Linked DNA regions of Homo sapiens. The protein of the gene in region 2 binds, or shares a complex with, the protein of the main gene of each other region. Each region holds a gene or a part of one and is shown on either strand. Other genes may lie near its edges. A codon is read from its position in the direction of its gene.

What was found.
Region 1: the proteins of SPINDOC (region 2) and SPIN1 are in contact, whole or in part, in a crystal structure (PDB 7CNA), measured with the Homo sapiens proteins. Residues at the interface, in NP_612480.1 of Homo sapiens: Phe256 (codon at 2,482), Ala258 (codon at 2,488), Pro259 (codon at 2,491), Ala260 (codon at 2,494), Val262 (codon at 2,500), His264 (codon at 2,506), Phe265 (codon at 2,509), Thr266 (codon at 2,512), Asp267 (codon at 2,515), Ser269 (codon at 2,521), Phe270 (codon at 2,524), Pro271 (codon at 2,527), Gly273 (codon at 2,533), Phe274 (codon at 2,536), Val275 (codon at 2,539), Leu276 (codon at 2,542), Gln277 (codon at 2,545), Leu278 (codon at 2,548), Phe279 (codon at 2,551), Ser280 (codon at 2,554); in NP_006708.2 of Homo sapiens: Met154, Thr169, Tyr170, Glu171, Pro174, Pro206, Val209, Val210, Leu213, Lys216, Gln217, Val218, Glu219, Tyr220, Thr229, Val232, Val242, Tyr243, Ile245, Phe247, Asp249, Asp250, Tyr254, Val255, Tyr256, Asp257, Leu258, Val259, Lys260, Thr261.

What each region holds. Positions count from the first base shown.
Region 1 is NC_000009.12:88,461,342-88,465,091, forward strand, and holds part of SPIN1 (spindlin-1), read left to right. Parts: intron 1-1,154; coding exon 1,155-1,408; intron 1,409-3,750. UniProt on the Homo sapiens protein: Chromatin reader that specifically recognizes and binds histone H3 both trimethylated at 'Lys-4' and 'Lys-9' (H3K4me3K9me3) and is involved in piRNA-mediated retrotransposon silencing during spermatogenesis.
Region 2 is NC_000011.10:63,816,353-63,820,102, forward strand, and holds part of SPINDOC (spindlin interactor and repressor of chromatin-binding protein), read left to right. Parts: intron 1-1,452; coding exon 1,453-1,782; intron 1,783-1,863; coding exon 1,864-2,013; intron 2,014-2,174; coding exon 2,175-2,300; intron 2,301-2,449; coding exon 2,450-2,650; intron 2,651-3,750. UniProt on the Homo sapiens protein: Chromatin protein that stabilizes SPIN1 and enhances its association with histone H3 trimethylated at both 'Lys-4' and 'Lys-9' (H3K4me3K9me3).

The sequences.
Region 1 (3,750 bases), on a different chromosome or scaffold from region 2:
GTCTCCTTGGTTAGGTTCAGACCCCCTTGCTTAGTTTTTCACCCCCAGGAGAGAAGCTTCCCTTCTGCGGCGAGTACTCCTTATTGTCTCTTATGGCCTGTTCCCGTCTGACTTAGCTAAATATATGTTACCAGTCTAGAGTAAATTATTTCTATTTAGAAAATATATAATTTTAGTTTTAGCTGTTACAACCTACAATAAATTGTTTCTTTAAAACTTATTTGTGTTATATGTCAGATATTAATCACTTTTATTCATGGTGTACGAAATGAGAGCTTTATACCCATAAAACTGTGGGAAGGGAATTCCTTTCAGGTCTTTTTGTTCTTGGCGTATATCAGCATCTGTTATCTTGGTTTTGACCTTCAGCTTGCATCCAAGAAGCCAGGGTTTTAAGGTGAAATGAAGATTTTTTCCTGATATCAAGAGCCAGGTGTATTATTTATAAACATTCTGTGTGGATTTTTCAATTGCTAATAATAAGCCAGAAAAAAAGTAGTTTGATGTTTCAATAATTTTTAATATTACATTGTTATAAACTTCAGTTTTAAGATTATATGTTTTCTAGACAAGTAATGTTTCTATAGTGCATTGATATAAGCTAGTCTGGACTTCAGTTTAAGAGAAAATTGTCTAGTTTATTTTTATTAGTTAAGCTTGTACAGGCAGAATTATTTGGGCACGGGAATGGGTGAAATTGAATAGTTACACATTTCTTTTTAACTTGAAGTAGATATTATATAAAACTATATACCTGTGTGATTATTGATAACATGTATTTCACGGATCAGTCCTTCTTTAATTAACTTGGAAAATTTTGAGTTGATTGAATTAAAATAAACTCAGAAAGCTGATAACCTGATGCTTAATAGTAGGGCTTAAGTTGCTATTGACTAGTAGTTTTTTCTGCCTATACACAGTTGAGGTGCACAACAAGCTCCTATTACTAACATACCATGTTACACACTCACCACCACTGGTACAGGGGTAGAGGACAACCACTTTGAGTCACCTGAAGCAGGAATGTGGCAAACATGAGTTTGTACATATTTTGGGACCATCTGTAATGAGATCATGCTAGCCAGCGGTTATGTTAGATCTAGGCATGCATACTTTTGAGATAATACCTTATGTGTGTATATGTGTGAATACAGAAAACATCGGAGCAGTGTGGGTCCGAGCAAACCTGTTTCCCAGCCCCGGCGGAACATCGTAGGCTGCAGGATTCAGCATGGGTGGAAAGAGGGGAATGGCCCTGTTACCCAGTGGAAAGGAACCGTTCTGGACCAGGTGCCTGTAAATCCTTCTTTGTATCTTATAAAATACGATGGATTTGACTGTGTTTATGGACTAGAACTTAATAAAGATGAAAGAGTTTCTGCGCTTGAAGTCCTCCCTGATAGAGTTGGTAAGTTCTTTTTATAATTTGTGCATTATATACTTTAAAAATGATATTGAACTGGATGCTTTTTTTATTTTACATTATTAATACTTCACTTTTATTGGAACACAAGCACCCTTCTTGATAAACATTATATTAAATCACCGAAAACCACAAAAATGGATCCTAAGCAGTTCAAGGAACTGTGTGAGGGATATAGAGATGTGTATTTTCCCCCCAAGAAGTTTGCCACGTAATAATTTATAATACGGTTATTTCTAACATTTTTGCTCACTGTTCTCTGGACTCTGATGGGTAAGGTTATCAGTAGCTGAAATATCCTATATGTTAATCTCATCTCATCAGATACAAAAGATAAGAGAATGCTGTGCCTTTAGAATCTTTCTGTGAAAGTGTATCTTTGTGTACAACGTAAATGATAATTGTACTTTGAGCCAAAATTTAAACAACCAAAACGTGGTCTTTATTATACACAGAGCTTGATTGAACAATGTTTGTGGAAATGAATGGCTCTTTTTAAATGTCATACAGTGCCAGTTTTGCCCTGCAAGTGTTCCTTAAGGCATAAGGTCTAAGGTAAATAATAATTACTGATTTTATTAGTAGGGTGGGATACACCCAAACTAATATTACTTTTTTTTGAAGTATTTATTTTGAAATATTTTCTTATTACAGTGATGCTGCTCTTGTTTAAAATATTGGTTTATACTTTTAGAATTGTCTTTATAAGTCTATACCATTAAATAATAAAGTTTCAGCAGATCTAGACTTGGGAGGTAGGAATTTTGGGATCAAATTGTCACAGGAAGAAATTAGTTCAGTCTCCTCGCTTTGTTTTTCTTCAGACTGTGCCATTGTGTCCCTGGGATATAACGAGTTTCCTTAGGAAGTTAATTCTGCCTTAGTAGCAAGTTATTTTGTTTTACTCTTCTCTTTAGATATCAAATGCTAAATCCTTGCTCATCTGTATAAATATGGTTCAGTTTTCAAAGAAATCTTTCTTTAAATTTAAATCTTTATTATTACTCCTAAAAGTAATATTAAGTCTTTGTTATTTTCAACATTCTCATCTATTCTTAAGTGTGACTGATCACCTGCTCTTCCTCTTGATGCACATCCTACATTTCTTCTTGATCATGGCATTAATCCATTTCCCATATAAGAAACTTTAACATATTAAAAATCTTAACAGCAGAATTTTAGTCTCTGCCCCTTCTGAGACGACAGCTAGCTCACTTGAAGGTTCCTGCATATTGCTGCATGACCTGTGGTTGTTGGTCCTTTTGTCATCGAAGGATAGAAACTGTACAAGTATCTCTGGTGATGGGACTAAGGGTTCCATGTTGTTTGTAGTTTGGTATTATCTCTGTTTCCAACAATAGTAATTTTGTAAACATTCAAGCAATATAAAAAGAAACCCAAGAGCTTTTCTGTAAATCAGCAATATATATGCCTAATTCAGCTAATAGTTGTTATTAATTTTAGTATTCGTGGTATTAGGTTGGTGCAAAAGTAATTGCGGTTTTTGACATTGAAATTGAAAGTAATGGCCAAAACAGCAGTTACTTTGGCATCAACCTACTTTAGTCTAAAAAATTACTTGCTCTTCACTTACGTTTTACGTCGGAAGCAATTGCTTCAGGCAGTACATTAGAGTATAATTAAAATTATGTTTTTCTTAAGCTAAAGTTAGAGAAAAAAGTCAGTCAGCCAGAATGCATGTGATGTCACAGAGCAGTGGTTCCCAAAGCAAGGCCTGGGGACCCTTGGGTTCTCTGAAGCCCATTCAGGAGATTTGCAAGGTCAGAAATATTTTCATTTTGTTAAGCTGTAATTCGCGCTTTTCACTCTCTCTTTTTCTCAATTACACAGTGGAGTTTCCCACTATCTATTTGGAAGATTTGCATAACTTAGTGAACACAATATTTTCTTTATGAGCAGTGCATGGTACCACATCATGCATTGGTGAAAGAGCTATTCAAAGTGCAAGACTAACTACTTTTTTTTTAATTGTAAAAAAACATAGCATAAAATTTACTGTCCTAACCATTTTTAAGTGTACAGTTCAGTAGTGTGTTAAGTACATTCGCATTGTTGAAACAGATCTCCAGAACTACTTCATCTTACAAATCTGAAACTCTCTACCTATTAAACAAAACAACCTACCTTTCCTCCCATTCCCAGCCCCTGGCAACCACCATTCTACACTCTGTCTCTATGAATTTGACTATTCTAGATATCTCATAGAAGTGGAATCACACAGTATTTGTTTTGTGAGTAACTTATTTCACTTAGCATAATGTCCTCAAAGTTGGTTCATGTTGTAACGTGTGACAGGATTTCCTTTA
Region 2 (3,750 bases):
ATCGGCAGAGGATGAAGTTGAGAAACTGACCGCAGAGTTTAGCACTGCTGACTTGGATGAGAGCTGTTTTGGAAGACTAGTAGGGAAGAAAGCTGATTGCAACTGAGAGGTCATTTCTGCCCATGGTCGCATGAGAGATAGGTACAAGACATATCTCGTATCTCTTTCAGACACCACCTCTTGTATCCATGCAAGCCGAGGCTCCTATTTCTCATACCACCTCTTCCATGCAGCCCCCAGGTATTAGGGCCTCCTGTGTTTTAATTTTGTCCCATCCTCTCTGGAAGGTAGGAGGGAGATGCAGCCGTGAAGGATCATGGGCACTTCGTAAAAGCACTGAGCTTCCAGGCTGATGCAGGTCTAAGGCTGCCTTCTTTGCTGAACTGGAAAGGGTGATGCCCTGTGAAAGCTTATGGTCTGTCTGTGTACACAAAGAGCAGGTATCAGGCAGCAATAGGAGTGGGACCATGGCTGTAAATGCTCTGTGAGCACTGAGAAGGGAGGCGAGTTCTGAGGGGATGGGGTGGCCTTTAGAACGGGCATGGTGGCTCATGCCTATAATCCCAGCACTTTGGGAGGCTGAAGCAGGAGGATTGCTTGAGCCCGGGAGTTCACAACCAGCCTGGGCAACATAGCAAGACCCCATCTCTTAAAAATTATTTTTTTGTTTGTTAATTAGCTGGGTGTGATAGCATGCATCTATCTGTAGCCCTAGCTACTCAGGTGGCTAAGGCTGGAGGGTCCCTTGAGTCCAGGAGTTGAAGGCAGCAGTAAGCTATGATAACACCACTGTACTCCAGCCTGGGTGACAAAATGAGACCCCCATCTTTTAAAAAAAAAATTATTAGCCAGGCATGGTGGCGCTCACCTGTAGTCCCAGGTGCTTGGGAGGCTGAAGCAGGAGGATCGCTTGAACCCAGGAGGTCAAGGCTGCAATGAGCTGAGATTACGCCATTGCATTCCAGCCTGGGTGACAAAGTGAGACTCTGTCTCAAAATAAATAAATAAAATTTAAAAATTAAAAGAATTTACCTTCCTCATCCTCAAGAAAGTGTAGAAGTCAGATTTGGATGAAATCTATTGTCAGGGATTGGGGTTCTGGAAAGCTTCGCAGGGATGATGTTGCCCAGCCCAATTAGGGTGGTCTGGACAGATGTGCAAAGGCTGGAGACCTGCAAGAATGCAGCCTGTTGGGAAAGTATGTGTAGTTAGTCCTAAGGTCCAAGACTAGATCAAGAGGAAGTATAGACGCGAGAGTCGTGGGATCCCGGGCACATCGGCTGTGTTGAGTGTGGCGTGTGCCTCATGGGCTCCAGGGGAAGGAAGAAGAACACTTTGGCCAGAAATGCTCTCCTCCCCCATCCCACTCAAACCACTGAGTCTGGAGACGTGCTAAGTGTTGTTGGTTGTGGGCACCTTTAGTGATAACACCCTCCCCCTCTCCCCTCGCAGTGACCCAACAGGAGAAGACCCCACCGCCTAGACCCAGCCCGCTAGAGGCAGGCAGTGATGGCTGTGAGGAGCCGAAGCAGCAGGTGTCTTGGGAGCAGGAGTTCCTGGTGGGCAGCAGCCCAGGAGGCAGCGGGCGGGCACTGTGCATGGTGTGTGGCGCTGAGATCCGGGCACCCTCGGCCGACACAGCTCGCTCGCACATCTTGGAGCAGCACCCTCACACCTTGGACCTGAGCCCTTCTGAGAAGAGCAATATCCTGGAGGCCTGGAGTGAAGGGGTGGCCCTCTTGCAAGACGTGAGAGCTGAGCAGCCGTCCCCACCCAACTCAGGTAGTTGGTCCTGGGGCTGGCGAAGGGAGAAGTCGGACTTGTTGGGGCACTAGAAGCTCATTGTGCTCTTGCTCCCTGCAGACTCGGGCCAGGATGCCCACCCAGACCCAGACGCCAACCCAGACGCTGCCAGAATGCCAGCCGAAATCGTCGTTCTCCTTGACTCTGAGGATAACCCATCCCTCCCTAAAAGGAGCCGGCCCAGGGGACTCCGCCCCCTCGAGCTTCCTGGTTAGTCAACAGAGAAGCCAGTGAGCCCCGGTGGAGGTGGGGGTTTGGGGACAGGGTGAAATACAGGCCCTGTGTTCTGGGCAGGTATCTTCAGGAGCCCTGGGGTGGCAGGGTTCGGGGATGGCCTCTTTAAAAGGGTATGAGGTCTTTTCTTTTTGCAGCTGTCCCTGCCACAGAGCCAGGAAATAAGAAGCCCCGTGGTCAGAGATGGAAGGAACCCCCAGGGGAAGAGCCAGTCAGAAAGAAAAGAGGCAGACCTATGACCAAAAACCTGGACCCTGACCCAGGTGAAGGGGAGGCCCGGGGGAGGCGTGGGCTCTGGCCGCAGTGCTCTGAGGAAATCCGCATCAGTGAGGATGGAGCAGGGCCTGGGCGCAGGGCGCCTGCAGCTCCTGAGGCTTTTTCACTCACAGTTCCATCCCGTCCTCCCTTCCAGAGCCCCCATCGCCAGACTCGCCCACGGAGACTTTCGCAGCACCAGCCGAGGTCCGACACTTCACTGACGGCAGCTTCCCCGCCGGCTTCGTCTTGCAGCTCTTCTCCCACACCCAGCTCAGGGGCCCAGACAGCAAGGACTCACCCAAAGACAGGGAAGTGGCAGAAGGAGGCCTTCCCCGGGCGGAGAGCCCCTCTCCAGGTGAGCCCTCCTGAGAGGGAAGCACAGTAGGGACCTCGCAGGCAGCGCTCCTGGGCCAGGCCTCAGAGAGGCTGCTCTATGGCAGAGCCCACAGTAGGGGTGGGTGGGGTGGGTGGGGTGGGTGGTGCTCAGGTTTCCTGGTACACGGGGCCGGGGCAGGGGATCTGAATGATGAGGAAGGCTGGCCTGAAAGCTGAGCTTTTCTTTTTCTGTTTGTTTGTTTTTTGAGACGGAATCTTGCTCTGTTGCCCAGGCTGGCATGTAGTAGCACAAGCCCGGCTCACTACAACCTCTGCCTCCCAGGTTCAAGCAATTCTCCTGCCTCACCCTCCCTAGTAGCTGGGATTACAGGCGTGCGCCACCATACCCGGCTAATTTTTGTATTTTTAGTAGAGACAGGGTTTTCCCATGTTGGCCAGGTTGGTCTCAAACTCTTGACCTCAGGTGATCCAACTGCCTTGGCCTCGCAAAGTACACCACGCCTGGCCTATTTTTTTATTTTTTATTTTTTGAGACAAGAGTCTTGCTCTGTCGCCCAGGCTGGAGTGCAGTGGCGCGATCTCGGTTCAGTGCATCCTCTGCTTCCCAGGTTCAAGCGATTCTCCTGCCTCACCCTCCTGAGTAGCTGGGATTACAGGCGTGTGCCACCATGCCCAGCTAATTTTTGTATTTTTAGTAGAGACAGGGTTTCGCCATGTTGGCCAGGCTGGTCTCGAACTCCTGACCTCAGGTGATCCACCTGCCTCAGCCTCCCAAACTGCTAGGATTACAGGCGTGAGCCACCGCACCTGACCAGGTGGGCTTTTCTTAGTGTTTCCTTGTTTCCTGGAATTGGTCACTGGGTCCGGGTAGGCCAGTGTTTCCCAGAAGCCTGATACTGATTTCCACACATGCAGTTTGTTCTAGCTAGAGCCTGAGGGGTGCCCACCTTACCCTGGTGGAGCTGAGGCCCAGATGGGGCCACTCAGCAATTCAGTTAGGTGTCCAGAGAATAGATAAGATGAGCAGTGGACAGACACCTCCAGGGGACACCAGCTCAGTAAATTGCCTCATAACAGCAGTAAGTGCTTGTGTTGTTTGGGCTCCTACTGAGTTTAAGA